2 separate regions of the Homo sapiens genome follow, and region 2 is linked to region 1. The links come from fine-mapping of genetic effects on gene expression. A gene starts in region 1. The other region holds a variant in brackets. All regions are shown on one strand. Distances are between the middles of the regions.

The links. PIP is the estimated chance that this variant, and not a neighbour inherited with it, causes the effect.
Region 2: its variant is fine-mapped to the expression of MACC1-OT1 in minor salivary gland (GTEx, PIP 0.94).

Annotation. Positions count from the first base shown.
Region 1 is chr7:20,131,255-20,147,619 of GRCh38, forward strand. It overlaps MACC1-OT1 (MACC1 3' UTR overlapping transcript 1), which reads right to left and starts at 9,172. Exons shown (of 6, transcript NR_110114.1): 1 at 9,063-9,172. MACC1 (MET transcriptional regulator MACC1) reads right to left here. Exons shown (of 7, transcript NM_182762.4): 7 at 3,401-9,904. The coding sequence ends at 9,692. It overlaps MACC1-AS1 (MACC1 antisense RNA 1), which reads left to right and starts at 10,662. Exons shown (of 4, transcript NR_046756.1): 1 at 10,662-10,766; 2 at 16,173-16,283.
Region 2 is chr7:20,063,929-20,080,293 of GRCh38, forward strand. All of the region lies in intron 1 of MACC1-OT1 (MACC1 3' UTR overlapping transcript 1), which reads right to left. Among named protein-coding and RNA genes, the nearest start is that of MACC1-OT1, 68 kb to the right of the region's middle. The variant T/C (reference allele first, on the strand shown) is at 8,258.

The DNA of each region.
Region 1 (16,365 bases):
GGACATGACACATTGACACACTCATAAAAGGAAGAGCATGTAAAGATACAGGGAGAAGACGGCCATCTTTAAACTAAAGAGAGAGGCCAGAAATATATTCTTCCCCACGGCCCTCAGAAAAATCCAACCCTGCCAAAACCTTGATTTTATTTCTAGCCTCCAGGATTGTAAGAAACATTTCTGTTTTCTAAGTCACTCAGTATCCCCCTTATCTGCAGGGGATACATTCCAAGACCCAAGGTTGATGCCTGAAACCACTGATGGTGCCAAACCCTGTGTAAATTTTTCCTACACATACATTCCTATGATAAAGCTTTAAGAAATCAACAATAATAAAATCAAACAAATATAACAATATACTGTAAAAAAAAAGTTACGTGAACATGATCTTTCTCTCAAAATATCTTATTGCATTGTACTCACCCTTCTTGTGACAATGTGAGATGATACAATGCCTACATGATGAGATGAAGTGAGGCGGATGAGGTAGGCATTGTGATGTAAATGGAAAATTCCAGAAATAAACAATTCATAAATTTTAAAATTGCATGGCATCCTGAATAGTGTGATGAAGTCTCACTCTTTCCTTTTCCGTCATCACTTAGTACCTATCTTGGTTATCAGATTGACTGTCACTGTTTCCTTGTGCTTGTGTTCAAGGAACATTTTTTTACTTAATATTGGCCCCAACGTACAAGAGTAGTGATGTAATATTTTCAGAACGGGGATGGCCACAGGTAACTGAACCCATGGAAAGTGAAACCACAGATAATGGGGGACTACAGTAATGCAGTTTTTTACTAGATAAACACAGAATATACTAAGTGGTCAAAACAGAGCTCTCATTAAAGATGGATTTAAAACTTTGCTCGAGACAGGAACCCAGGGTGGGTGGATTAATTACATGCAGTGGGTTTGCACCTGTTTCACTGGAACCTGGACTCTTATTCCTAAGCATACAGTAACTTCTCAGCAATCAAAATAGAAAGAAATATAGAGCTTTTCTAACAGCGTGAAAGGATATTTGATTTTCCTTTTTCTTCTAAACTATCAGTGAAATCACTTGAAAATAGATTTAGGAATGTAATATCAAGTACTTACTTATCTTCCTCTTTTAAATAACCTTGATCACTAATCTCTTATTTTGCCACAACCCACACCGTTCCATTCAACCTTGAAAAACCTAATATCCAATTTCATCCCAAAGAGCATTTCTCTATGTACAGCAAATTATGAATATAGTTGAACAAACATTAAACAGGAACTATATATTAAGGAAAAAATGATCATGGGCTCCTAAAAATAAAAAGACAGGATTAATTCTATGACATGTTGACTATATCTTAATAAAGCTGTTAGGTATTTTAAAAAAGAACAAACACACCACCATTGTTGGTGGTATCCCTTTACATTTTGCCCTATTTTTTGATGATGTCTTGGAATCATGTAATTCCCTTCAATTGCTGTTGCTGTTCTACTTTCCCCTTGGGCAACATTTTGGGGTTATTACTCAGACAAAAGAAGAGATAAAGATCTCCAGTGAAAAGTCAGATGGCTGAGAAAGGTGAAATACCACTGAGCTTGGACCCCGCTTTCCTAGTTTCATTCAGGAAATGTTTGAAGGAATTTGCCATGGTTGTTTTTCACCAGCAGGTCATGACACTCGATTCTAACCTTACAATTTTCACAATCAAGCATTCTGGGAACTCCTTCTCTGTCCCTCTCTTCCCCTCAGCTTCTTTCTAGCAGTAGGTGAAGTGCATCTACTACATTATAGGTCCTGCTTGAGAGTAATTGAAGTCACAGGAGATCTGCCTCTGGTCCTCTTAGGCCAGGTGCCCCTGTGGCCTTGATGGGGTTGTAGGTGGTTTTGTCATGTCATCAGCAATTCGTAAAGTGGTATGTAGAGAGCAGATATTGCCAGTGAAGTTCCATTTACTTATCATTTGATTTATTGCAGAAGTTTATAGAAAAGCAGGCCCATTGCCAGTCTCATACTAAGGACTCAGAAAACTAGCTTCTTGAATTGCACTTGAGGGAGAAAGATTTCCTGAGGCAGCAAATAGTGCTGAGGCTAAGTGATCCTCTCGCCTCAGCTTCCTGAGTAGCTAGGACCACGGATGTGCACCACCATGCTCAACAATTTTTTTTTAATTGTATTTTTTGTAGAGATGGGGTTTTGCTGTTGCCCAGGCTGGTCCCAAACTTCTGGCCTCAAGCGATCCTCCTACCTTGGCCTCCCAAGTGCTAGGAATACAGGCATGAGCCACAGTGTTTGGCCTGGTCTTTTTACAAATGGAAAACACAGTATCTTTCCTTCTTTCTCTTTACCTGATCTATAAAAAGATACAAATTAACTGTTGTTTGCTTATCTCCTGGATGGATTTAATGCTATCTAAGACTGTTTTGTAAAACACCAAAGAAACTTCAGCTAGAGCAAACGCAGCAGCCCTACATCAAAATTGTCATTTATCGGTCTTTCGAGAGCTGGTGTCAGAAAACCTATTTTAAACTGGATTAGGCACAAAGAATTTGTCTCTCACAACTAAAAACTCCAGGAGGCAGTTTCAGGCATTCCAGTATCCAAGGCTTGAAGAGTGTGATCAAACTTGTGTTTTGTTCTTGTTTTGTTAGTTCCCCTACCTATATTTGATTATATTAGTTTCATCCCTGGGCTCCACAAAGCTGCCCAGCAGCTCTGGGCTTTCCCTTTATGGTAACAACATGGCTGCAGCAGCTCCATCCTCACCTCTCCTCATGTTCCAGTTTCAAGGTGACATGGCCTTGTAATTTCCCCTGGGCTAAACTAAATAGTGTTTCCCAGGGCTTTCTTCACTGAGTGTCTCTGAGTGTTGCTGATTAGAGTTGACCACAGAGAAATCTATGTAAGATTTGTAAGGTCACATTGGAGCAGGAGCACTGTTACTCTTGGAAGGTGGAGGTAGGTCAGGCGATCATTGCACCACTGCACTCCAGCTTGGGTGAGACAAGGAGACCTTGTCTAAAAAATAAAATAAAATAAAATAAAAATAAAAATAAAAATAAAAATTCCAACACAAAGAGAGGAAGACAAAGTTTCCATTGTCATGAATAGGCAGCCTTCTTTCTTTACACCGTAATTGAACCCTTCCCTAGCTCCACTTCACCCCTTTCTTGATTTTTCGTCATGATATAAAACGTCTGAGTGAGCATTGAGTATGTATTTCCTGGGAGTAAACCCAGAGAATGGGTTTTTCTACTCTGATAAGAAAGGGCGCAGTAGCTGGTTCTATTAGGTCATTTAATCTAATATGTGTAAGATCAGCATTACATCAGACTTGCCAATTCCAGATTCTGCTTTAAAGAGTGAGTTTGGTAGAACCAGTTTAGGTAAAAACAATAACTTAATCATAACTAAAGATTTGATTTTTCAATGACTCACTCTATTTTCATGAACAAGTTAAATGCCCCAGTAAATTCCATGTATTGAGTTTAAGTGAGCATATAAACATTAGGGACATTTAAAATCTACTTCCAGTCACAAAAGGGCAGAGTCTTGATATCTTTAAGAACAGAGAAAAGGAAGCCATAGATTCTTCCAATCACCCAAAGAAAAACAATTAACAAGGAAATGATGGCAGAGGATAAAACGTGATACGTCAATCTCAAAGTGAGATGGTTCAGCTTGCCACCTCTTCTCAGTCACCATCTCTTTAAATGTGGAATATGATCCTTAGAAAGAACATCCGATCACCTTATTAACACTTTCTAATTCTACAGTGAAAGCAGGGCATATAGATAGCTGTATTGATCACATTGATTAAAAACATTTTTTTCAATGGGAAAAAATACATTTAACAAGAAATTCAACAAATAACACACTAGGGAAAACAAGGCTTTTTCCGAAGATATTTTACAGAAACAAATGCAATGTTACATATATTTTGTAAAATTATCTTAAAATTATACTGAATACATGTCCCAAATTATTGTTAACCTATTTTTATTCAAATATGTTTATGCTTTAAATGAAACACAGAGATTTTAATTAGTTTCACAGTCAAAATTATTTTTGTAGGCCTTTATTAACTCATGAAAAGTTCACTTGCTATAAATAGAGCCTTAACATAAAGTGATTTTCGGTTCTTTAGCACAATTTTTAAAACAATTTCTCCAACAGAATTAAGTGAAATCTCATTTATCTTAAAGCAAATTAGAGGACTTATAAAAAATCTTTCCATTTCTATAGAGATGAAGGAAATTTTAATACAGTGGTTCTCAAACTGGGGTCCCTGGACCAGAAACATCTGCATCACCTGGGAAGTGATTAGAAATGCAAGTGATCAGGCCAGACCCTCTGAATGAGAAATTCTGGTGGTCGAGCCCAGCAGTCTGTTTCACCAAGCCCCCGCCAGATCGTTTTGCTGCTGCTGAAGTTGAAGAACCACTGCCGTAATGATTGCCTGGTCTAAGGCCTTGACAATGAGACTGGAGCATGTTTGGCAGCGTGCTTTGAGAAGCTCCTAGTGAAACCAATGCTGACCTCCTAAGTCAGTACTCAAGCACCATACTGTAGTTTGTTTTAAACAGCTGGAAGTCACCAATTGTTCAAAAACAGTGTGTATTACATAATCAATTTCAAAAGATTATGTAAAGAATAAATGAGGATATTTGTAAGGTGCTTAGTGTGCTTATGTATGTGTGCTAAATGTGCTATGCCTTACACATAGAGGACACAATTTTAATGTGGATAATTGGTATTCAAATTATTACTCTTAAATCACATTCTCTTTTCTCAAAGCAAAAAGAATAAAGAAAAACGCAATACATTCTAGTCATTGAACATTTATAGACATTTAAACCCAAGGGGAACACTAGAGGTCATTTGGTTCAAGTTCCTTGTTTTACTGGTGAGAAAACTGAAGACCAGAGAGGCCAAGTGACAGGTCCACAGTCTCATAGGGAGTAAGGGAGTAATGGACAAAGATTAGAAACCGCAGCTCTCAACTCTTTGACTAGTGTCTTGTAGAGGAAGCCTTTCATGCTGTACTCATTATGACAACAACAATATTTTCTATGAAATTTTCTCCTTTGGCCTTACTAATTATTATCCAGTGCTAACCTCTCTGTCTCTACTCCCTCACATATAAACTGACACTATTATTCAAAATTACAAAACTATTTATTAGGGTTAAAACTTTCTAGATGTACATAAATAGAAAATCAATGTAAAATATACATGCAAAAGATACACATTTCTACAATGTTCAGTGAAATCTTGATGCTGAACATCAGATACATTTCAGATGCTGTATGTGTACAAATTCAACTTTCCTATGTATATGTGGTCACTTTATTTTGTGCTGTGGACCAGTAAATACATATGCAAGAAACAAACCTTCGACATGCCATTTGATTCTGAAAAAATGTCTTTGGATTATCCCACCAATCATATTGATGTTCTTTAGAACTTCACTCTCACTAAACCATACAGCAGCATGTGGGAGAAAAGTTCATACAGAAGGAGGAGGGACTTACTTCTCCTCCTTGCGATTATTATTGCGATTAAGGATTATTATTAATTCTTAAAGATTAAGATTATTATTAATTATTAATTGTAATTATTAATTCTTAAAGATTATTAATTATAATATTAAATTATATTATTAATTCTTAAAGATTATTAATTATAATATTAAATTATAATTATTAATTCTTAAAGATTATGAATTATAATATTAAATTATAATTAATTCTTAAAGATTAAGATTATTATTGTGAATAAGAAGAAAAATGATCTAATTTAATGTAAAAACCCTCCAGTGACATCATTGTTCATTATTCTCTTTTTCTTTTATATTACCTCAAAAATTCCTTAGATATAAACAATTACAGAAAACATAACAATAGCACAATATAAAAATTCAAGTCCTTCAACTTCCAGTTATAGCATTGTACAAATTTGAGTGTATGCATGTTCTCTTTTGCATGTTCACATTACACATTCAAGGCTGATTAGTAGCAGCAGTGTTTCTCAGCCCAATGCCATCCATTGATTTAGCATTCTATTCCTTCCAGAAACCTAGTCATCCCCAAACTGAGAACTTTATATAGTATGTTCTACATTACAGGCCATGAAAATGTGCTGTATCCATTTATTAGTATGAACAGTTAATGACACACTATTGAATGCTTCTACTTAATTGTTTCATATAAAGGCTTTAACACAAAGGAGGTAGAGGATCTGTGGCTTATACAGAAAAATTATTATGTTTCAAGCTGGGCACTTAATTCAAATCTTATCCTAAGTCACGCATCATTAGACAAAAAGCCTGAGGAACTGAAAGAACCATGTAAACATTTTCTGCTTTCAAAATGCTTAAAGAAGTTTTAGATTAATGGGATTTGATACTTTTAATGATGTCAAAGATGGTATATAAGTGCCTTATTATTTCATTGACTTACTGCCAAATATTGAAGGCAATTCATGATTACTAATTTAATCTTTTCTGATTATGAAAATCCATTATAGCAAGAAAAAATATAAAGTTCAGAAAAGTAGAAACTATTTATTTAAAAATTAGAATATATTTATACAAACAGAATGTTTGGACATGGGCTTAAAATTCCTCTGGAAGGCTGGGAGCAGTGGCTCATGCCTGTAATCCTAGCACTCTGGGAGGCCGAGGCAGGTGGATGACCTGAGGTCAGGAGTTCCAGACCAGTCTGGCCAAAATGGTAAAACCTTGTCTCCACTAAAAATACAAAAATTACCCGGACAAGGTGGTGCATGCCTGTAATCCCAGCTACTTGGGAGGCGGAGGCAGAAGGATCTTTTGAACCCAGGAGGTGGAGGTTGCAGTGAGTCAAGATTGAAACACCGCACTCCAGTCTGGGCAACAGAGCCAGACTCTGGCTCAAAAAAAAAAAAAAAAAAAAAAAAAAAAAATTTCCCCTGGAAGGATTTGTTACAAGATTATAAAATATATTTGTGTGTATTAATATTAGAACCATTGTTTCATCCTCAAATTACAGAGATCTTGTTTTTCATTTTTTTAAACTCTTATTATTCTCAATCACAATCATAATACATGATGCAATGTAAACCTTAAATTATTTATTTAATCTTACTACACTAATCAGCTAACAAGATCTCTGTCTTCTTAGATCTTGGAGCCTGGAAAAACCCAGTTATTAATCCCCACTATCCCTTCCCAAAATTCTCTGGTTAGCTGACATGTTAATAAGATTCCAAGAATGTTCTAAAGAAAGCAAAATCACCACAAAAAAGGACTGTGTTCTGAAAGTAAAAACTGTGCTTTTTTTTCCTTCTCTCATAATTTATTTTTAATTAAAATAAATTCTGTCCTTGAATGTGTATACATAATTATTTGGTCAGGCTGTGTTCCCTTATAATCAAATATAAATACTGAAAGCCGTACAGATTATTCCTTTTTTTTTTTTTGAGACAGCCTGTCACCCAGGCTGGAGTGCAGTGGCATGAACTCGGCTCACTGCAAGCTCCGCCTCCCGGGTTCACGCCATTCTCCTGCCTCAGCCTCCTGAGTAGCTGGGACTACAGGCGCCTGCCACCACGCCCGGCTAATTTTTTGTATTTTTAGTAGAGACGGGGTTTCACCGCGTTAGCCAGGATGGTCTCGATCTCCTGACCTAGTGATCTGCCCGCCTCGGCCTCCCAAAGTGCTGGGATTTCAGGCATGAGCCATCGCGCCCGGCCAAGATTATTCTTAAACGCCAATTTGAATTACCATTGCCAGCATACCAAATATCCCAGGGTGGGTATATTAAAAGCCCTAAAAAGATTCTGCTTTTACTTTTTAGCCAAATGGACATCTTTTATTCAGGTTCCCAAAACAAAATCCTTCTTTGGCTTACCCACATTTCTTTGAGGCTGTGTGTTTTCTTTCTAAATTCTAGCAGCCTTAATGGCCCTAATGTGGCTTCTTCTTGCTCCATCCTCATCTCAACCTTGAATCTTTTATCCTTTCACTCCTTCACCCCTGCTATCTGCACCTATTCAGCTCCCACCCATCTAAGAGCTTCAGTGCTTTGTGGGATCACCGCTTACACCCCACCACACCAGGACAATGCCTACTCTTCCTTGAGGTTCATTATTTCTTTCCAAGAACAAATTTCCCTGACCCACCCCCACTTCCAGTTTCACATGATGGCATCTCTACGTTTATATCTCGTAGCATCACAGCCTCTCCATTGCAACTGTTAGTATGCATGCCATTTTCTATTTAACGGTGTCATTTTTTAAAATTATCTATTACTTAGCACTACTAAAGTCAGAGTTCATGCTGGTTTTTTCCCATTAGCCTCAAGCATCTATATGCCTGCCAAAAAATAGACACATATACTCTACCTATTGACTGAATGACAATAAATGAATGTCTGTCCAAATACACACATAAACACTGGCAGGCAACCAGAGGATTGAACAGAGGAGTAAGCAAAATACATCTCTTTGTGAACTTTGTCAGCCATTAGCATTTATACTGACCCAGGGTCCTATACAATTTTTGTCCTATATAATCAATTAGGCTGTGCTTTATAAAACACTGTGGTACACACACACACACACACACACACACACACACACACATGTGTTTGCATGAGCATGCCAACATAAAGATATCAGTGTTTTCGGTGGTTAAGACCTCTCTACTCAACAGGGTAATCAAGTTAATCAAGTTTCTGGTGGTGGTGGTTTTTAATAACTCGTATTATTAAAAATCTCCAAGAGCTAAAGAACTATTTTACATTACAATCCTGCAGAAAAAGTCCCAAATTAGGCAGGATTAGAGAGGTCCCAAGATGCTGAAGGGAGCTGATGAAAACACTAGGTCCATGCATGCAGACAACAGATTTCTGATAAGTCATATTTTCCTTCTGTCAGTCTTTCAAGAGACGATGAAAAAGAGTAGCAAGTCTCACTTAAAATGAAACGGCAACTGTTTCCCTGTAAGTCTTAACACGCATTTTGTTTTTACTATTCTGTTATGCAGTATGATTTTTTAAAAAGAAATAGAAACAGGTTTTTCAAGCAGAAAACCTACTTTGTACTGGCTATGTAGCCTCAGACGTTCTCTCCACTTCTGAGTTTCTCCCCATGAAAAATGGGGGTGATGCTGGTGAACCCCACTGATGAACTGAAGAGGTCAGGTGTGGAAAGCGGGCAGCCGTGACTGGCCACAGGGTGTGTGCTTGCTTCCCCTCTTTCTAGCTGCCTCCTGGGAACACTGCCTTGATCATGTTGATAGTCTCTAGTTTACCCAGATATCTGTGTGATGTAATTATTCAAACAGCTTTGACTTAGTAAATTTAAAATAACACTGAAAGAGAGAGAGGGCACTTTTCTTTTTTCTTTCCTTTCTAAGAACAAAGCAGCCTAATACTTGTATTTGAAACATACACAAAAATACATATTTGAGGATAAAACCCATCTTGGTTATCAGTTAGGCTGTGCTTTCATCAGGAAAAAAAAACTGGTTTTGAGCATGAAGAAAATTAATATAATGCTTTTCTGAGATTCTTTCTTTCCTACACACACACACACACACACACAGACACACACACACAGACACACACACACAGACACACAGAGACACACACAGACACACACAGACACACACACACACACACCATTACCTCATTTTCCCTCCCATCAAAAACACACGCTTTGTTTCTATACTTCCTCAGAAGTGGAGAATGCAGTTACTCTCAAAACCTCCAAAGAATTTACTAGTATTAAAACTCCAGTTAATTCTCTCCAGTGTTTAGTCACAGGGTTTTTCATTCTGTCCAAAGCTGACTGAAGGTCTTGTAACACATCTCTGTAGTTATTTCCATAGTGAGCACTCCAGGTATACAGAAAATCATAGGCAGGTTTCCACATCATCTATAAAGAAAAAAAATAGATTGGAGTAGTGTGGAAGTAGAAAGGAGAGGAAAATCGTTTTTAAAAAAAAGATGTAAAAAGCCTCTTAAGATTTAAGATAAAACGGAATACCAATTACACATGGACTTATTTGATGTCATAGAAAATATGGTTTAATAACTATCAGCTTCCTGTTATATCCCTGTGTTTTTAAAACTAGAGATTTTAAAAATAATAACTACAAATAGGGCCTTTTTTCCCTTGATCCATCATCTATACATTGCTGTTGCTTTCATGTGAATATAAAATTCCTTGCACAATTTTTTGATGGTAACAAATGTTATTGAGATAGGCTTTTTACTATTTGAGAGACTTTTAGAGTTAATTATTATTATTATACCTATCTGTGGTGAGTTTTATGACACCAAATAATGTATCAGGAGAGAAATAGTATATTTAACATTTTAAATTATTTTACTCGAGCAAGTCTATAAACAAGCAAAAATCTAGCTTCTTGATCAAGTCAAGATGAAAGCAAAAATATAATTCTCTAATTTAAAATATTTATTTCATGATATATTTTATCATCGAAAGAAAAACCAATACTCAGTGCTGCTTCTTTTTGCTTTTCCTAAGCACCTACCCATACCAATGATGTCATTGTTTCCATAGAAATAAATGTACGTCAAAGAGAAACTTCACATACAAGCATGCATGTAATGGTAACCAAGGCAACCAGGCTAGAGGGAGAATAGAGACAAAGGCAGACCAAATAAGACAAATTGTAGAATACACACACACACGCACACACACACACACGTCACACACACAGCACCTTAAAATGAATTTTCTCTAGGGAAACAACAAAATGAACCCTGCACTTGTAAGTGGAATATTTGAAATATAAACTTTATTATTTGCTTATTTTGGGGGGTTCACTGAACTAATTTGGTTGTGATTCTATCACTTGCAAAATGTAGGAACATAGACTCCGAGCTAAATATCATGCAGAACTGCCCTTTTAAAGTAGAACCTCTATCACAGTTCAGTAATATCACATGAACTAAAGCCTTGGCATATAATTTTCACCATCCTCCAATATCCTCATATAGTCTAATTTTAAAGTTAAAAGAATTAAAGACCTAAATAGGGAGTTCCATTATGTATTTGATTCAATCCACATAAAAGGCTCTAAGGACAATTTAATGTTATTTGTCCAAACTGGCATTCCTGGGAAGCCATGAACAGCCATTTCCTCATCTCTCTCGACAAAGCTTAATTTTGCAAGGTAGAGAATAAAAGACAATTATCAAAGTTATACCATATCAGCATATGGTGCAGCAACAAAAATCATCTCAGATTTTTGTATATAAGTTTTACCCTCACCAACCGGATTAATAATTTTATCTTCTATGTCTGATGGAATGTGAATGAGGCATCTGCTCATCTATATTTCTGAAGATTTACATTGAAATCAAACTTCTCAAAGTACAATTGCCACTAGTTTCTCAACAATGGAATATCAGTTGAGACATAGTAATGGAACCTTTTTTGTCAGACTCAATCTTGGTTGTCGCTGCTCAGTTGCAAAGAATCACTAAACAAATAGATTATTCTGTAGTGGGTATATTCTGTCTGTAAAATCTCTGAGACGTGGACACTACCTTCTATTCACTTAAAAGTCCCTGATGCTCAACGAACTGGTTCAAATTGTCACGTATTTTTTAAAATAATGGTGTTTATAGCTAAAGGCTTCTAAGACTGTTCTAAGTCTGCTAGTGATTGAGTCTGATAAATGATGTATTTGAAGATATTTTATGATAAACAGCAACTTAAAACATTTCTGTAAAAAGGGGATGGCATAGTAGATTAGTGTAAAGCATCGCAGAAAACAGACATCTCAAGAATTATAAAAGGGTAATTTTGGGGTTGTCCACTACACTACAGATTCAAATACTTTTACAGTCAAAAGCAGCCAATATGGCCCCACCTACTTTCATGGGAAGAAAAGCTCTGTATCTATGGCCTATCTTGCGGCAGGACTGTGAATTGCTATGTGTAGAGGAGCCCTTAGGCACACTCAGTCAAGAAGCAGCTTCTCCATGCTGTTGAGGGCAGGAAATACCACAGGTGATGCAAAAAATAGAAACTACAGATTCAGGAAAGGTCCGACGACACATCTACTCATGCACTTACGCAGAGCACCACATAACGTCCTCACATTTGGCAATTTGTTGTTGTTGTTGTTGCTTTGCTTTGTTTTGTTTTGGAGACGGAGTCTGGCTCTGTCGCCCAGGCTGGAGTGCAGTGGTGTGATTTCAGCTCACTGCAACCTCCCACTCCCTGGTTCAAGCAATTCTCCTGCCTCAGCCTCCCAAGTAGCTGGAATTACAGGCACGCGCCACCACGCCCAGCTAATTTTTTTGTATTTTTAGTAGAGACAGGGTTTCACCACCTTGGCCAGGATGGTCTTGATCTCCTGACCTCATGATCCGCCCGCCTCGGACTCGCAAAGTGCTGGGATTACAGGCATGAGCCACCACGCCCAGCCCTACATTTGGCAATTTGTACTAACAACAGAGTAGTGTCGATAGCTCTTGCAAATCAGAGAAATTTGGGTACAATACTGAGTCCTAGGCCCTAATTAAGATTTTTGAAGGTGTAAAGACTTCCCAAGAGTCCCCTGAATTTGTCTGAAATGCAAGGGGGAATATTGCCCTAAACCGATTTGAGACTCCCTGGAGTGTAAGCTGTAATCTGGCTAGAAATGGGTAAAAGAGCATTGGGCTGAAAACAATAGGGCGTTGGTAAACTTTACGATTTACACTAAAATATGAGCATACTCTGTATTCCATTTTTCTTCCTCATTGCAGCAAATTAAACCTGAATATTCCTTTGGTGCAAAAATTCATCTTCTGTGTACAAAATCATTGGTAGCTCTCAACAAAGATGATAGAGAAACACTTTTATAGCATAAATACAATGAAAATATTCAACATTATCATTGTTCATTAACTATTTTGCTTATCAAATCAAGGTTTATTATCTTCCACTACAATAAATTTTGTTACAGTAAGAAAATGATGAATATTGCATGACTCTTGCTTTTAGAAGCTTATAGCGTAGGAAGGAGATAGACACCTGCACAAACACTGGCACAGGGGATGAAATAGGATGTGATAATTACAGAAAAACTCAAAAATTACTTGCATATTTTAAATCAGTGTGAGAAAAAATGATTGTTGTATTCACTGATGCTATAATGGAAAGAAAGATAGGTTTGGGTGGCAGAGTCCTGTGTCTACATCTGAGTTCTGTTGCCTATTTGATAGGTTAATTTGATAAACTAATCAAGTTATTTCAGCTTGGAATTTTTTTAATCTATAAAATATGGATAATCATTCCCAAATTTTGTGTTCAAAATACCTCATGATGTATCTGGCATATAGTTTGCATTTATACTTCTTAATAGGATAGAGAAGAAAGTACTTATTTTTTTGGCAGGGGCAAGCTAAAGAGCCTATTTTCAGCCCTACTGAATATCAAGCAAAAGGGAGGGTATCTGATAAAAAATTACAGTTGGAATGAGGAGATGACCTTGAGAGGACAGACAAGGGTTTAGCATCACTTGTGCTACAGGGATGGCAAAACACATGAGAGCAGAAGAAAACACCAAGGAAGAGAAAAAAGGGATGCAAAATTTAATTCTCAACTAAGTCAATTATTAGTGGATACAAGAGAGAAATAGACGCAATAAAAGGATGGGGAGAAGCTGGAGTCAAAGAAAAAGAAAGTGAATCACATGCTTCATCTTGCAAAAGCCAAGAAGTATAATAACATCCCAAAAAGGACATGCATTGGCTTGCTGGAGCCAGCTCACACAAGCTCCCTGGATATCCTCCCAACTCCATGTTCCACAACTCCAGTGACACCACAATGGTAGGTTAAAATGATGTACGATCGGAATATTTACACTAAGAACATTAACAAAAGCTATAAGTTTAGATTTTTTCCCTCTGCAGGGTTGGTTGGTAAACATATGCCAGTGTAACACTGAGGACTTCCCTTTTCTGTTACCTCCACTGCTACCTGTAACATCAACAATGTGGGAATATAAAGAAAAACTTGGCAAATCCAGGATTTTGGAAATTAGCAGGACTTTGGTAACTTGGAGAAGGCAGTTTCAAGAGAATAGTCGGGGGCATACGACAGGTACAAACAGGTATCAAAGAAATGGAAGACACCAAACAAATGGGTCACATCTGAAATTTGAGTGTCAAAGGAAGAGAGACAGAACCAGAACAAGCAGCAGTAGAAAATAGAGGTATTTTTAAAAGAAAAACAAATTTAAAAAGTAATATCCTACCAGAACAAGCAGCAGTAGAAAATAGAGGTATTTTAAAAAGAAAAAAAATTTTTAAAGTAATATTCTATGATGGCAAGGGGATTTGGATTTGAATCTTAGCTTTGCCATATGGAGAACTTAAGGTTAATGAGGCTTAAAGAGGTAGCATATATAAAGCACCCAAGAAGAAAGGTTAACTTCCTTTGGCAGAAACATAAATACAAAAGGATGTTAAAATCATTATGGAGTTAGGGCACAAAATTAGAGGGGCAAGTATCATGAGAAATCGAGAAGGAATGAGAACAAAAGCATATGTCAAGACTTATGTACTTAATACACTGATAAAAAATATTAAATTGGGGGAACTATGTTTTCCCTTAATAAGTAAATCTCTAGGCTGGGGGTGGTGGCTCACGCAAGTAATCCCAGCACTTCTTTGGGAGGCTGAGGTGGGTGGATCATGAGGTCAGGAGTTCGAGACCAGCCTGGCCATTATGGTGAAGCCCTGTATCTATTAAAAATACAAAAATTAGTGAGGCGTGGTGGCACGCGCCTGTAGTCCCAGCTGCTTGGGAGGCTGAGGCAGGAGAATCGCTTGAACCCAGGTGGCAGAGGTTGCAGTGAGGCAAGATCATGCCACTGCACTCCAGCCTGGATCTCAAAAAGAAAAAAAAAAAAAAAAAGTAAATCTCTATTTGAGCTTTGCCTTAAAAAAACCTGATTAATCGTCCAGGTCTCTTCAATACAGTAAATAGGCTAATCAGTTGTTTAATTGTCCTTTGTGGAATAGATATATGAACATTTGGACACAAGTTCTAAAGGTACTTTTATTTTTTCTGCATTTTTTATCTCATTTCATTCTGGTTTTCTTAAACAGTAAATACATTTTATCCAAGGCAGAGACATAAGAGGTAATTTGTGTACATTAATTAACAATAAACTCTATGAAATTTGCCCTAAAATATCTACCCAGTAAGGTCACAAAAAATTCTAAATTTTTTAATAAATTACAAAGAAAATGAAGTCATCTTTTCTGGAAATGTTTGAAGGAATAAAATGCGTAGAATAAATAATTTTCTTTCCGGACTGACTAACATTTAATCCTCCGAAGGCTAGAAAGGAGTTGCAGACAGCCAAGATCTCTTCCAGATTTATGTTGTCTTGTATCTATTCTGTGTTTTAAAAATAGTTGTTCCTCTCTTGCTCAATGTTATGATTAGAAAAGATATGCAGAAACTCTACACTTGTGTTTTGAAAAATCTAAAGGAAAGCCCTCTCAGGAGGGCTTGTTTTTTAGTTGTTAAATTATTCTTAACCACAAAAATTATCTCAGCCTTCTCATTTCTATCACAAATATTTAATACATAGGCTGCATTCTTATGCCTCTATTCTTAGATTTTTAATGGTAACTTCATGATGTTGCAGTTTCATTCTTGAATAGGAAGCGTGAGGCTGATAAAAGCACAAAGTTGTTAATTTTCATCTATGTGCTTTTCTTTTTATAAAAAAGGGCAGCAGCGTGAGTAAGTATTTAACATACAAAGTTGAGCAGTTTTCCAAAGTTCAAGCTTTTGTGTGGAAGAAGTGTGTCTTAGGTTATCTTTTCAGTGTTATAGGACAAAATAAAAAGTAATGGAGCAATAAAAAGTAATAAGTGGGATGCCAAAAGAAATGAAATAGGAATAAAGGCAAAACATACATAGTTTTCCAAATTTAGAGTGCTCATTCCCAGAAGCCAATAAGACTCATTAGAAAATGCACTAGAAAATGAAATGCCACATGAGTAGAAGAAATTCAGATTTCAGCATAGCACTGTATGTCTTTTTTTAGCTTATAAAATATGAATAGCATAAAGAATGCAATTGGTTTTAACTACTTTTGGATAATTACATTTTGTCACATTAAAGGATTAGTAATCCACTTACTTCTCCTATAAACTTACAGGAACAACACTTCATTTTCAGTACCATTAGCTGAAGAAGTATTAAGGCAAGGTTGCCTTCTTAATGATTATTTCATGTGTTCTATCCTCAGTACATCATTTACAATATTCAGGTAAGCTTTAACACTTAACATTTAACATTACCTATAATTAGTAAGTACATAAATATTGTTGAAGGTAAGATTGCTGTTGTCT
Region 2 (16,365 bases), 67 kb before region 1:
TTTATCACTATGAGTCCTTTTTAGAAACATCAATTTTTCTTATATTCCTTTCCTGTCATTTCTAAAAGTGGGCTTTTCAGATATCTTCTTCAGCAGCATATTAAGGAACTATGTGGTGAAAAAATATTCCATGGGCAAAAATGTCTGGAAAATTTGTATTGAACAAGCCTAAAAACTGTTTTCCTCCCTGCAGTATTTACATATGCAATTGTAATATGTTAAAATCTGCCATAAATCCCATACATAGCATATACAATGTTTTCCAAACTTATATTCACAGCCTCCTTTTGAGAATAGCATTTAATGTACTGATCCTCCAAAGAATACAAATTGCCGTTCCAGAAATTCAGTACCACCTGTGGTTATTTACTATTATAGTTAACATGTATGCTCTCACATTACACCACATGGGTTTGAATCCTGACTCTGTCACTGTTTTTCTTGTGAACTTGAGTGCTGAGTTTTTCTCTGAAAAGGATGATGAAGATATGGTTATTGTGGAGATACAATGACTAAACACATGTAAAATATTTAGAAGAGCTAAATGCTGCTCTAAATATTTTCACTGCTACACAGTGAGCATTAAGGAGTTAACAATTAATATTAAGATAGACTGCAACTCAGGGTCCATCTTTCTGCTCATTGATCCAGCAAAATCTGGCAACAGAATTACGTGAGATGCTGTATTTATAATCACCACCATTAGTATGCATGGTTAAATCATAAATTTCTTGAGGGCAGAGATCGCATCTGTCCATCATCCTCCTTTTTGAGGGTTAGAGTTTGGCTTAATCAGCCTCTGCCTCGTAGGAACTCTGGAATGTCCAGCGGTCCAATTAGCATAACAGAATCCAGGCCCTCTGGAATGATTGTGAAGTGAATCTTAAACCAAGATCAACAAGACTAAGAAGATGTGTCAGCAAAAGGTGGTAGAAGCCTTTGTAATAGGGCTTTACTTGAGACTTGAGTGATGCAGGTGGAGTCCTTAAGTCAGAATTCCACTCAGCAGACCTTCACATTAGAGGATCCTTGAAACCAAGCATAGGGTGAGGAGGTCAGGGATCTTCGAATCACCTTAGTGAGACTGAAGATTGGAGTCAAATGCTTCACTGTTTGTTACTTAAGCGCTTGATTTTCCTGAGGTTAACGCGATAAGGACATGAGGGTTTTATGTTTATCCTCCACAGTGCCTAGCACATACAAGCACATAGCCAGTGTTAGTGAATGTGTTCTTTTGAGCATGTAGTATGATCAGAAATTGCAGTGACAGTGGCAGAACTGACACTCTTACTCTCCCACTCCAACTGCAGAAGGAAAGAAAACGGAGAAACAAGAAACAGTAAACACATAAACTGAGAGAAAGGAAGAATTTTCCATCAGGCAAAGCAAAGTTTATTCTTAAAAAGAAACATGCATTATATCTCAAAGAACAGAGAAACAAGATAGGGTATTTAAGGGTTAATTTGTGTGAGCAAAGTGCTCTGAAACCATGGGTATGAAACCACATCAATGCAGTCTCACCATGGCTGCCTGCCGCATTGTGCAGCTGCTATTTTTAGCCAACATTCATACTGCTCTGGGTCAGAGTGGGGGACTTCTGTGCAGAGAAGAATGAATTGCTTGCAGCAAGCCAAGTTTTGAGGAGTAATTATTTGTGCTATAATGTACAGTCAGGGCCAGCTCCATGCCACACACTGAAAACTAAGTCTTCCAGGAAGTACAAATAGGCAGGTCTTCAGTGGCTGCTTATGGCTTCTAGCACTAATGATACTTGGCAGTGCTGCCAGGATGATCAAGAATTAATTGATTTGTTGTGAACTCTACCAAAGGTTAGCACCGAGTCTGATGTTATACAATGTAGATACATTTTCAAAGTACTTCATGATCATTAATTATTTTTTTTGTCTCAATGTTCCAAGGAAGTAAAAATTAGTTTTCTTTATAATTTTAATGTTATCTTTTCAACTTTATATTTATTAACCTTAGACTTTCTAGTAAGAGCAAATGCTCTTTCACAAATTTCTTGTTACAAGAGATACAGTAAGTAACAATTCAGTTTTTATTTACTAATAGCTGTTTTCTAAAGCAGGTACCAAATCTCTTTCTTTTTACTTTCCTATTACCCAAGGGTGCCTGTGCCTGACCAACACTAACTTTCTATACCTATCAGATAAATCCTAAGAGGCCAAGATATACTTCACCCCGAATATGGATCCAGTTTTAAGGAAGTCAGAGTCACAACTTCCGTTTTTCAAAGCAATAATGGATTGAGCACAGAGTCTCACGCCTGTAATCCCAATACTTTTGGAGGCCAAGGCGAGAGAATTACTTGAGATCAGGAGATCAAGACCAGCCTGGACAACATACCAAGACCCTTTCTATACAAACAACTTAAAAATTAGCCTAGTGTGGTGTTATGCATCTGTAGTCTCAGGTACCGTGGAGGCTGAGATGGGAGGATCACTTGAACTCAGGAGTTCAAGGCTGCCGTGAGCTGTGGTTGTTTTACCATACTCTAGCCTGGATGACAGAGTGAAATCCTGTCTCTAAGGATAATAATGATAATGATAATTATAATAAATCATTAACTGAACTCCCAGAAAACACTAGAAACAGTATATATTATTTGTTGAGGGTTTTTCAATTATAAAATTATTACTATTTATTATTAGGAAATCAGAAAAAATTACTACTCAATACTTGAATATATATTTCCATTTTTATGCATTTGTTTGTATTATCGCCAATTTTTTAAACTTGATTTTTTATTTGATATTTTGTGAGCTTTTCTCTGTATGTTAAACAGCCTCAGAAAACATGATGTTGGGTCTTAATTTTTAATACAGCAATATCATGATTTATTTAGCCAATCTCTTATTTTACCTAGTTTTTTATTTTTCTTTCTAATCTTTTAGCATGTATAATATTGTAATGCATATCCTCATAGTAATACATTTAAGTATACCTCTGACTTCTTTAGCATACATTTCAAAGAATAAAGCTATTGTGTCAAACATTTTTAAACTTTAATATATATTGTTTCGTTTCTAAGATCACTTCCCATTTTTTATTTAAATCTAATTCTAGACTCATCTTAAATGGTTCAAGTAATCTTAGCTTACTGACTTTAGCTTTACTTACAGTGAGAGAGGTTGATATTATAAGGCTTTAAAATTTATATAGTGAATTGTGTATATATTTTTTCACAGTAATTTCTTTTTTTGCTTTCATGCTTCTATCCTCTTTTTTAACCATTGATGTTGGGCCTAGAGGTGGGTTGCTGGACAACTAAAACCTAAGACATCAACTGTTGAGTTTTGGGACAAGACACAAGCACAGACTCTTAGTGAAAGCTTAAAGTACAGTGAAGAAATATTATTACAGGCTGGAAAAAAAAAGAAAACAAGTTATTTTGGCAAAACAACCAGCATTGTCTGCAATAACATGGGCTATATAAAGGGCACTTCAGGAACTTATGGTTTTGGCTAAGAAGTTTTCCAGTCAGAATGCTGGAAAAAGCTTCTTCTAGTGAAACAGAAGAACAGCAAGATAAGTTAAAAAAAAAAAAAAAAGAATGAAAAAGAATTTTTCAATTTTCAAGCAGAATTTACAGAAAATATGAAGGGGCCAGCACTAGTTTTTTTTTTTTCATGAATAAAACTATTCTTTTCAGACATGAAAAGACTTATTACAGTAAAAAATGGCTACAGGGCAAACATCAAAGCAAGGGCATTTCCATTAAAACTTGCCCTCAATATAAAGTTCATATCAAGTTTATGACTATAAGATCCTTTGCTGAGACCTCAGAAATACTTAAAGTTCCACACAGACCCTCTCAACTACTCAACAGGGCTTTTAAAAATCTTAAGGGGGCGGTTCCAAGATGGCCAAATAGGAGCAGCTCCAGTCTACAGCTCCCAGCGTGAGCGACGCAGAAGACGGGTTATTTCTGCATTTCCAACTTAGGTACCAGGTTCATCGCGCAGGGTCTTGTCGGACAGTGAGGGCAGGACAGTGGGGGCAGGACAGTGGGTGGAGCCCACTGAGTGTGAGCCAAAGCAGGGTGTGGCATTGCCTCCCAGGGAAGTGCAAGGGGTCAGGGAATTCCCTTTCCTAGCCAAGGGAAGCAGTGACGGACAGCACATGGAACACAGGATCACTCCCACCCTAATACTGCGCTTTTCAAAAGACAGCACACCAGGAGATTATATCCCACGCCTGGCTCAGAGGGTCCCACGCCCACAGAGCCTTGCTCATTGCTAGCACAGCAGTCTGAGATCGAACTGCAAGGTGGCAGTGAGGCTGGGAGAGGGGTGCTCCCCATTGCTGAGGCTTGAGTAGGTAAACAAAGCAGCTGGGAAGCTTGAACTGGGTGGAGCCCCCTGCAGCTCAAGGAGGCCTGCCTGCCTCCTTAGACTCCACCTCTGGGGACAGGGCATAGCTGGAAAAAAGGCAGCAGAAACCTCTACAGACTTAAATATCCCTGTATGACACCTTTGAAGAGTGTACTGGTTCTCCCAGCATAGAGTTTGAGATCTGAGAATGGACAGATTGCCTCCTCAAGTGGGTCCCTGACCCCTGAGTAGCCTAACTGGGAGGCACTCTCCAATAGGGGCAGACTGACACTTCACATGGCTGGGTACTCCTCTGAGACGAAGCTTCCAGAGGAATGATCAGGCAGCAACATTTGCTGTCCAGCAATATTCGCTGTTCTGCAGCCTCCGCTGCAGATACCCAGACAAACAGGGTCTGGAGTGGACCTCCAGCAAACTCCAACAGACCTGCAGCTGAGATTCCTGACTGTTAGAAGGAAAACTAACAAACAGAAAGGACATCCACACCAAAACCCATCTGTACGTCACCATCATCAAAGACCAAAGGTAGATAAAACCACAAAGATGGGGAAAAACAGAGCAGAAAAGCTGAAAATTCTAAAAATCAGAGTGCCTCTCCCCCTCCAAAGGAACCCAGCTCCTCACCAGCAATGGACCAAAGCTGGATGAAGAATGACTTTGACGAGTTGAGAGAAGAAGGCTTCAGATGATCAAACTTCTCCTAGCTAAAAGAGGAAGTTCGAACCCATCACAAAGAAGCTAAAAACCTTGAAAAAAGATTAGCCAAATGGCTAACTAGAATAACCAGTGTAGAAAAGCCCTTAAATGACCTGATGGAGCTGAAAACCATGGCACGAGAACTATGACATGAATGCACAAGCTTCAGTAGCTGATTAAATCAACAAGAAGAAAGGGTATCAGTGATTGAAGATCAAATGAATGAAACGAAGCGAGAAGAGAAGTTTAGAGAAAAAAGAGTAAAAAGAAATGAACAAAGCCTCCAAGAAATATGGGACTAACTGAATAGACCAAATCTACGTCTGACTGGTGTACCTGAAAGTGAAGGGGAGAATGGAACCAAGTTGGAAAACACTCTGCAGGATATTATCCAGGAGAACTTTCCCAACCTGGCAAGGCAGGCTAACATTCAAATGCAAGAAATACAGAGAACGCCACAAAGATACTCCTCGAGAAGAGCAACTCCAAGACACATAATTGTCAGATTCACCAATGTTGAAATGAAGGAAAAAATGTTAAGGGCAGCCAGAGACAAAGGTCAGGTTACCCACAAAGGGAAGCCCATCAGACTAACAGCGGATCTTTCAGCAGAAACTCTACAGGCCAGAAGAGAGTGGGGGCCAATTATTCAACATTCTTAAAGAAAAGAATTTTCAACCCAGAATTTCATATGCAGCCAAACTAAGCTTCATAAGTGAAGGAGAAATAAAATCCTTTACAGACAAGCAAATGCTGAGAGCCTTTGTCACCACCAGGCCTGCCCTACAAGAGCTCTTGAAGGAAGGACTAAACATGGAAAGGAACAACTGGTACCAGCCACTGCAAAAACATGCCAAATTGTAAAGACCATTGATGCTAGCAAGAAACTGCATCAACTAACAAGCAAAATAACCAGTTAACATCACAATGACAGGATCAAATTCACACATAACAACATTAACCTTAAATGTAAATGGGCTAAATGCTCCAATTAAAAGACACAGACTGGCAAATTGGATAAAGAGGCAAGACCTATCAGTGTGCTGTATTCAGGAGACCCATCTCACACGCAGAGACACACATAGGCTCAAAATAAAGGGATGGAGGAAGATCTACCAAGCAAATGGAAAACAAAAAAAAGGCAGGGGTTGAATCCTAGTCTCTGATAAAACAGACTTTAAACCAATAAAGATCAAAAGAGACAAAGAAGGCCATTACATAAGCGTAAAGGGATCAATTCAACAAGAAGAGCTAACTATCCTAAATATATATGCACCCAATACAGGAGCACCCAGATTCATAAAGACCTACAAAGAGACTTAGACTCCCACACAATAATAATGGGAGACTTTAACACCCCACTGTCAACATTAGACAGATCAACAAGACAGAAAGTTTACAAGGATATCCAGGAATTAAACACAGCTCTGCACCAAGCGGACCTAATAGACATCTACAGAACTCTCTACCCCAAGTCAACAGAATATACATTTTCAGAATATACATTTTTCTCAGCACCACATCACACTTATTCCAAAATTGACCACTTAGTTGGAAGTAAAGCACTCCTTAGCAAATGTAAAAGAACAGAAATTATAACAAACTGTCTCTCAGACCACAGTGCAATCAAACTAGAACTCAGGATTAAGAAATTCACTCAAAACCACTCAACTACATGGAAACTGAACAACCTGCTCCTGAACAACTACTGGGTACATAACGAAATGAAGGCAGACATAAAGATGTTCTTTGAAATGAATGAGAACAAAGACACAACATACCAGAATCTCTGGGACACATTTAAAGCAGCATGTAAAGGGAAATTTATAGCACTAAATGCCCACAAGAGAAAGCAGGAAAGATCTAAAATTGACACCCTAACATCACAATTAAAAGAACTAGAGAAGCAAGAGCAAACACGTTCAAAAGCTAGCAGAAAGCAAGAAATAACTAAGATCAGAGAAGAACTGACGGAGATAGAGACACAAAAAACCCTTCAAAAAATCAAGGAATCCAGGAGCTGGTTTTTTGAAAAGATCAACAAAATTGATAGACCACTAGCAAGACTAATAAAGAAGAAAAGAGAAGAATCAAATAGACAGAATAAAAAATGATAAAGGGGATATCACCACTGATCCCACAGAAATACAAACTACCATCAGAGAATACTATAAACACGTCTATGCAAATAAACTAGAAAATCTAGAAGAAATGGATAAATTCCTGGACACATACACCCTCACAAGACTAAACCAGGAAGAAGTTGAATCCCTGCATAGGCCAATAACAGGCTCTGAAATTGAGGCAATAATTAATAGCCTACGAACCCAAAAAAGTCCAGGAACAGATGGATTCACAGCCAAATTCTACCAGAGTTACAAAGAGGAGCTGGTACCATTCCTTCTGAAACTATTCCAATCAATAGAAAAAGATGGAATCCTCCCTAACTCATTTTATGAGGCCAGCATCATCCTGATACCAAAGCCTGGCAGAGACACAACAAAAAAAGAGGATTTTAGACCAATATCCCTGAAGAACATCGATACAAAAATCCTCAGTAAAATACTGGCAAACCAAATCCAGCAGCACATCAAAAAGCTTATCCACCATGATGAAGTGGGCTTCATTCCTGTGATGCAAGGCTGGTTCAACATATGCAAATCAATAAACATAATCCATCATATAAACAGAACCAAAGACAAAAACCACATGATTATCTCAACAGATGCAGAAAAGACCTTTGAGAAAATTCAACAGTGCTTCATGCTAAAAACTCTCCATAAATTAGGTATTGATGGGACGTATCTCAAAATAATGAGCTATTTATGACAAACCCACAGCCAATATCATAGTGAATGGGCAAAAACTGGAAGCATTCCCTTTGAAAACTGGCACAAGACAAGGATGCCCTCTCTCACCACTCCTATTCAACATAGTGTTGGAATTTCTGGCCAGGGCAATCAGGCAGGAGAAAGAAATAAAGGGTATTCAATTAGGAAAAGAGGAAATCAAATTGTTCCTGTTGGCTGATGACACGATTGTGTGTTTAGAAAACCCCCTCATCTCAGCCCAAAATCTCCTTAAACTGATAAGCAACTTCAGCAAAGTCTCAAGACACAAAATCAGTGTGCAAAAACCACAAGCATTCTTATACACCAATAACAGACAAATAGAGAGCCAAATCATGAGTGAACTCCCATTCACAA[T/C]TGCTTCAAAGAAAATAAAATACCTAGGAATCCAACTTACAAGGGATGTGAAGGACCTCTTCAAGGAGAACTACAAACCACTGCTCAATGAAATAAAAGAGTACTCAAACAAATGGAAGAACATTCCATGCTCATGGATAGGAAGAATCAATATCATGAAAATGGCCATATGGCCCAAGGTAACTTATAGATTCAGTGCCATCCCCATCAAGCTACCAATGACTTTCTTCACAGAATTGGAAAAAACTACTTTAAAGTTCATATGGAACCAAAAAAGGGCCCACATCACCAAGACAATCCTAAGCCAAAAGAATAAGGCTGCAGGCATCACGCTACCTGACTTCAAACTATACTACAAGTCTACAGTATCCTAAACAGCATGGTACTGGTACCAAAACAGAGACATAGTCCAACGGAACAGAACAGAGCCCTCAGAAATAATACCACACATCTACAACCATCTGATCTTTGACAAACCTGACAAAAACAAGAAATGGGCTAAGGAGTCCCTGTTTAATAAATGATGCTGGAAAAACTGACTAACCATATGTAGAAAGCTGAAACTGGATCCCTTCCTTACACCTTATACAAAAATTAATTCAAGATGGCTTAAAGACTTAAATGTTAGACCTAAAACCATAAAAACCCTAGAAGAAAACCTAGGCAATACCATTCAGGACATAGGCATGGACAAGGGCTTCATGTCTAAAACACCAAAAGCAATGGCAACAAAAGCCAAAATTGACAAATGAGATCTAATTAAACTAAAGAGCTTCTGCACAGCAAAAGAAACTACCATGAGAGTAAACAGGCAACCTACAGAATGGGAGACAATTTTTGCAATCTACTCATCTGACAAAGGGCTAATTTCCAGAATCTACAAAGAACTCAAATAAATTCACAAGAAAAAAACAAACAACCCCATCAAAAAGTGGGCAAAGGACATGAACAGACACTTCTCAAAAGAAGACATTTATGCAGCCAAAAAACACATGAAAAAATACTCACCATCACTGGCCATCAGAGAAATGCAAATCAAAACCACAATGAGATATCATCTCACACCAGTTAGAATGGCGATCATTAAAAAGTCAGGAAACAACAGGTGCTGGAGAGGATGTGGAGAAATAGGAACACTTTTACACTGTTGGTGGGACTGTAAACTAGTTCAACCATTGTGGAAGTCAGTGTGGCGATTCCTCAGGGATCTAGAACTAGAAATACCATTTGACCCAGACATCCCATTACTGGGTATATACCCAAAGGACTATAAATCATGCTGCTATAAAGACACATGCACACGTATGTTTATTGCAGCACTATTCACAATAGCAAAGACTTGGAACCAACCCGAATGTCCAACAATGATAGACTGGATTAAGAAAATGTGGCATATATACACCATGGAATACTATGCAGCCATAAAAAATGATGAGTTCATGTCCTTTGTAGGGACATGGATGAAATTGGAAATCATCACTCTCAGTAAACTATTGCAAGAACAAAAAACCAAACACCGCATATTCTCACTCATAGGTGGGAATTGAACAATGAGAACACATGGACACAGGAAGGGGAACATCACACTCTGGGGACTGTTGTGGGGTAGGGGGAGGGGGGAGGGATAGCATTGGGAGATATACCTAATGCTAGATGACGAGTTAGTGGGTGCAGCGCACCAGCATGGCACATGTATACATATGTAACTAACCTACACATTGTGCACATGTACCCTAAAACTTTAAGTATAATAAAAAAAAAAAAAAAAAGCAAAAAAGCAAAAAAAAAAAAAAAAAAAAATGAAGGGTTGGACAGCAAATTTTTCGGCAGCAGCTGGCCTCTTCCCCAGTTTTCTCTAGTTCGTTAAATGGCAGCACCATTTTCAAGGTATTCAGGCCCCAACTCTTAGTCATGCTTTACTCCTCCAGGTCCTGCATATCCATATTCAGTCATCAGAGTAAGTCTGCTTATCCCTACCTTCTAAATGTCTGCTGAATATGGAAACTTCTCTCCACCTTCAATGTCTTCTCCTTACATCCAAGACCTCAACATATTTCATTTAAAGGACTGAAATAGCCTTCCAACTAATCTCCCACCATCCTGGGCCCTATGCTTAAGTCACACCACATCCCTGCTCAAACATCTAATGGCTTCCATCTCATTCAGAGTAAAATCCCAATTATTTTCCACAGCCTACAAAGGCACATATGATCTCACACTTCTCTCTCTGACCCCTCCTAATCTCCCTCTTGATTAATCACTTCCAGACACATATTGCAAGCTTATTCTCACTGCAGGGCCATTGTTCCATTTGTTCCCTCTGCCTGAAAGGATATTCACCCAAATAATGGGTGCAATCACATAGCTTGCTCTGTCATTGTATTTAAATTTATTCTAAAAGATCTCTTCAGAAAAGCCTTCGGTGAACACCTTCCATAAATCTTGGTTATGGTTTTTTTTAGCATTTAACATGATGTAATATAACACTACATGTTTATTTGCTTATTTCCCTACCCCTTAACTAGTAGATTCCATGAAGACTTGTATGACACTATCCTTCTTACTATTCAGAACAGTGCCCACCGTATATTAGCTCTTCAAGAAAGTATTTGTTGAACAAACTCATTTCCAAAAACGAGAGAGCACATCATTTTCAAACACACGTGCAATATTTATGAAAATTGGCCTGATGCTGAGGCACAAAAGAAGTCTAACCAAACCACAATAATAGATCTCATACCCATCATGAAGATGCAATGTAGATGCCCACCTACAACTCTGAATGACAAAAGCCACAAAATTTATTTCTTAAAACAAATGTCTTCTCTCTATCCAAGTAGAATCTATTACAATTTTACTGCCCCACAAAAAAATGTCTAAAGGGCTCAGTATGACACTCTTTCAGGAAAGAATTATTCACTATTATTTGCCAAGCTCCTGTTCCAGAACTGGAGATCATGTTTAAAAAGCAGTGTGGGTGGTGGGGAGGGGGCGAAATTTGTCTAAATTGACTGAAATTGAGTAAGAAATATATATCTCATCTATGTATATATGTATATATATCTCATCTATGTATGTGTGTATGTGTATTGATTATCTATCTAATATAACATCAAATTTAATTTTGTAAAGTTTCTGAAGTCAGATTGAGTGAAGTTAGTGGCCCTTAAGCTGGAACTTAATTGATGGATAACATGTAACAGACATAGAGAATGTCTATGGAATGGAGAAGGGGAAGAAACAGTTTCCAAACTGAAATATTGGTACGTGCAAACCTATGGAATAAGAAAATTTTACATTTTTAGAAAAACAGCAAGCCATTCGACTTGGTGCAAATATAGACTGTACATGGTAAAATTATACCAAAGGCACATTGTGAGAGCTTTAGAAGCCAGGCTAATAAATTATAGACTTTAATAGGCAGATCATGAGGAACACCAGAAGGCTTTAAGGAGAAAGTGATGCAATTATGAATTATACTTCAGAAGATTTTATTTGGTTGGAGATATTACTGCGTTGAGAACACGGCCTGTAGAGTTTGAGGAACACAAATGGGCAAGTCTCTCGTTAGACTCTCTCACTGAGCACTGTAGTGCTTGGATGGATTACTCTATCTCAACTTAACTTTATTTATGAGGGTTAGAGTTGACCACTATAGAGGTGGGCAAAGGTAAGGCTGCATAGATGTTATGGGCAGAGGCGTTGGTCACCAAAGTATTCTCTAATCCCCAGAAGAAAAAAAATGTTTCTTATAAAGCTTTTTTGTCTAAAGCACATTGCGAGACTCTGATAAAGATCCGTGCCATGCATTCCTTTCCCTACCTACGTGGCAAAGAGAAAAAGTGCAAAGTCTCTTGTGATTTTATTAATTTCCCACCCATTAAAAAAGCTAGAGTGTAGGGAATCTTAGTTTGAATAAATAGCTCCTGGCTTCCATCATTGAGAATAAAGTAATCTCTGTTTTCACCCTTGAATGAGAGGTCACTAAGTGAGATGAATAATGTTCTTCAGTTACTGAATGATGCAGGATATGCTGAGTAATGTATTTATGTGCAATTTGCACAACTCTTTAATTAGTTTTAAATATCAAGCTTATTCTAGCTGACATCTAAGCTTTAATATTATCTTATTCAAGCCAAGTATGTGGTTTTGAATTTGCTTTGCAAATGGTATGTTCTTCAGGGTTGCTTATTTAGCAATATTCTGATCTCAGTTGCTACATGATCTGTCTTAAGAATTCTAAGCAGATAATTCTATTTAGCCACAGGGATAAATACAGATTTCTAAAGAAATCTGTCAAGAAAATGATTGCAGAACATTGTATTTATCTGGCTTTTAAAAATTTCTAAATACCATTTCTGGGTTATGATGGTAGATTACATAAATATGCATAATTTAGCTTTCTTCATAAATGTAAGCTATTGCAAAAAGATTTCATAAAAAAGCAAAAACTCACACGGATGAGATAAACAGCAGATGGACCCATGGTGACCATGGCCACGGTATATGTCAGAGGCTGGGATGGAAGCCAGTGGGAGACAAAATCCAGCTCTTTGCTTTGCCCTCATCAAGTAAGACATGCGTCCCCCTGTGGAGAACCCTTTTTCCTAATTCACACAGGGATAACTAGCTTAGCATACCCAAGAAGGCCAAAGTTAAAGTTGGCAGTAGCATAAACAAAAAACTGACAATTTATATTTTAAGAAGTACAGCGAGAGCAGCAGGAAGGGTGAGAGATGGTAAAGACTCCAAGGATAGAGTGAACACTGGGAAGCTGGATCCCTCTCCCATGCCACATCTCCAAGAAATCCCCCGCCCCCACCATCCCCAGCACAAGTCTGCAGGTTTAGTCTCTGGCCCAGACAGAAAATGTCTTTGTACTGTGGCTCCAGGAAGATTTTGGAGAATACATTACTGAAATTGGGAGATTAAGTCACCATTAACATTTGAAACACTGAATATGAAGCCACTCCCAGCCCTTCTCTTTCAGTTGGCTGCCAGAATTCTGGAACTCACAACCCTAAGCAATCTCACTGTTTCAAGATGTTTATCTTAAGGGTTCCTCAAAAATAGCCCAAACAAACCAAAAGAGAATTTTAAATTATACAGAAATTGCAATCAACTTTTTGTCCCCCACTCTTATCCTTGAGCAGAATACCATTTTTAACTGTATTAAATTGACATAAAATCATATGTATTTATTGTGTACAATATGATCTTTGAAGTTTAGTCACGAGTCATTTAAGGACAGAGAAATTCATGGTTAGGTGATTTTGTCATTGAATAATCATAGTATGTACTTACACAAACCAAGGTGGTAGAGCCAGGCTATGTGGTAGAGTCTATTGCTCCTAGGCTACAAAGCTGTACAGCATGTTATTGTACTGAATGTTATAGGCAACTGTAACACAATAGTAATTATTTGTGTATCTAAACATATTTAAACATAGACGAGTACTGTAGAACTATTACATTGTAATCTTATGGAAAAAACATTATGCATATAGTCCATTGTTGACTGAAGTGTTATGTGGCACACAACTGTATATATATGCATTGTGGAATGGTTCAATCCAGCTAATAAAGAAATTTGTTACTTCATATGGTTATTTTTAGTTATATAGTTTTTTTTGTCAAGAACACTTAATATCCACCCTCAGCATTTTTCAAGAATACAGTACATCACCATTAACTATATTCAACATGCTATTCAATAGATCTCTTGAACTTATCCCTTCTATTTGAAAGAAATGCCTTTGATGTGGAAATACAGTGCTATGGCAATCAAAAAGGGTCAAAAACACATTGGAAGAAACAGACTATGGAGGACAGTAAAGATTCATATCATTTCTATATGCAGAGATCTGAGAAGACATTGCTTAAATTGCTTCAGGTTAAACAAAATAGACAAATTAGAATTCTGGGGAATTAAAAAAATATGTCAGTAGAAACAAAAAGTAAATAGGAGATGGATAGCTGGAAAATGAAACTGAAGAAATCTTCCCAGAAAGTACAGCAAAAAGACAAATAAATGGTGAATAAGAAAAGAAATAAGAAAAACTGTTTTACATGCAGAATAAATTGTTATACGGGCACCACACCCACTTACAGGAACAACATCACCCACATTGGAAACTATCATCTAATCACATGCATGAGGCTCCTTCTTCCATGACCAGATTATCACCTCCCAGAGAGCATGGATCCCATCTCTCTGATTCACTGCTCTGTCCCCACATATTAGCTTGTAGCTGTTGGTACACAGTGAACACTTTCTAAAATTTTACTGAAAATTATTGAGTAAATTACATAAACATTTATCTAGTAAAAGAGTATATTTTCCTTTGATTTATGCAGAAATGGTAGGTGACTCAACATCAGCAGCTGCAGTTAATTAAATAATTAGCGCTTTCCTTATTTAATGTCTCCGGTGAGATCATGGCAATGTAGTAGCAAAAATAAACACCAACCAACTTCGCAGAATTTTATTCCACTACTTGTACAGCTGTCAAATTGCTCTGTGATGAATGCATTCAGGATTGAGCACCATGGAAATGCCACACTGACCAGTCTCTGATGTGAGAGTGGTCATGTCATGAATGAGGCCTAGAAGCTCCTTTGATTACACTAAGTCCACACTTAATAAAGTCGATAGGTTATTGGAAACTATGACTTTAAGTTAAACAACAGATAAAGAAACATTTTTTTCTCATCAACGTTATAGTGAAATGGTGTTGAGGGAAACAACATTATTCAAGGACTTGCTGCTAGTGGGAGGAATGGTGGACTGTATCAGACATCTTTTGTTCCTCACATCAAAATCCTTCAACTCAGTGTTTTGTTCCAGCAATCTCTAGTCACATGCAAGCAAGTGTAACTTCATGCTGTCTCTCCTCAGCTGTGCTAGAAGTTGCTCACTTTCTGCCCCAGAGTTTCTCTGCCACCAGCATGTCAGATGTGTGCAAGAACTTGTTCTGCCATTCTGACACAGACACCAATCAGAGACTGCAAGGAAATTTATACTCTGTGAAGCAACTTGACTGACTGTGAATGAGAGTTAGTGAATATTCAAATGAATAGCCTATTCAATGAATAGAGCTATTCAAATGAATAGTACTTTATCCCTTTGGCAGACAATTTGGATGTGTCTTATACACAGGTCCTTAGAAGGTCTACAGTGTGATCAGTTCACAGTTGTCCACAGTGGTGACCAGCTCAATATCATGCTCTTGGGTTGGCTTTCCCACTTTCCCTGTTGAACTCTTTTCATTCATCCCCTCCAGTTCTTGGGAATCTCTTAGCAAAAGTAACTACATACAAACCCTTCTCTCCAGCTATGCTTTTGGTTGGTTGGGGTGGGGGCGGTGCTGGGCGGCGCTGGGCGGGGCAGGAATAAGTTATTAGGACCCCCTGACATGTAAAACAACCTTCCATAAACCTAAATCTTTCCAGATAATTCTAGTTTTTTCAAAGGAAAAATATGCCCTTTGTAAATAAATTCAAAATAAAGAGAGAGTCTACTACCTGACTTCTCTTTAACAATACTACAGATGATCTTCATAGAAAAACATAGTTTTATTTTGCAGGTATATTATTAGCAGTAGGGCCCAGAGTATTTATTGGAATGTTTTGACATTTTAATAGTACTTTTTCTAACTCATCTTTTTCTAACCTTTTTTTTTAGTTTAATACTTATTATAATCATTTTATTCTCATTGTATTTTAAAAGTTAAATATTAGAGAAATAATATAGTTGAAAGGATTACCTAAAATTTAGCAGATAACTAACTTAAACTACACAGAAATAGTAAAGAGAAAGGAGATCGTTGCAATAATTAAGAATGCTAAGAATTAAAAAGTATTTTCATGTAATACACTACTCATCTAATAGGATACTGCCTATTATATGAAATTGTAGACTTTTAATTTATGTCATACACACAAAGTCCCTTTTATGTTTTTATGTCTGAAAAATAAATGGCAATGATTTTGCTATTCTTAAATATTCTACAATAAAACAAGAGAACCATGACCAAAAGTAATAAGCTCCCACAGGACATTTTTCTTACTCTAAATTGTAAATGGAGTGAACATTAAAAATATTGTTT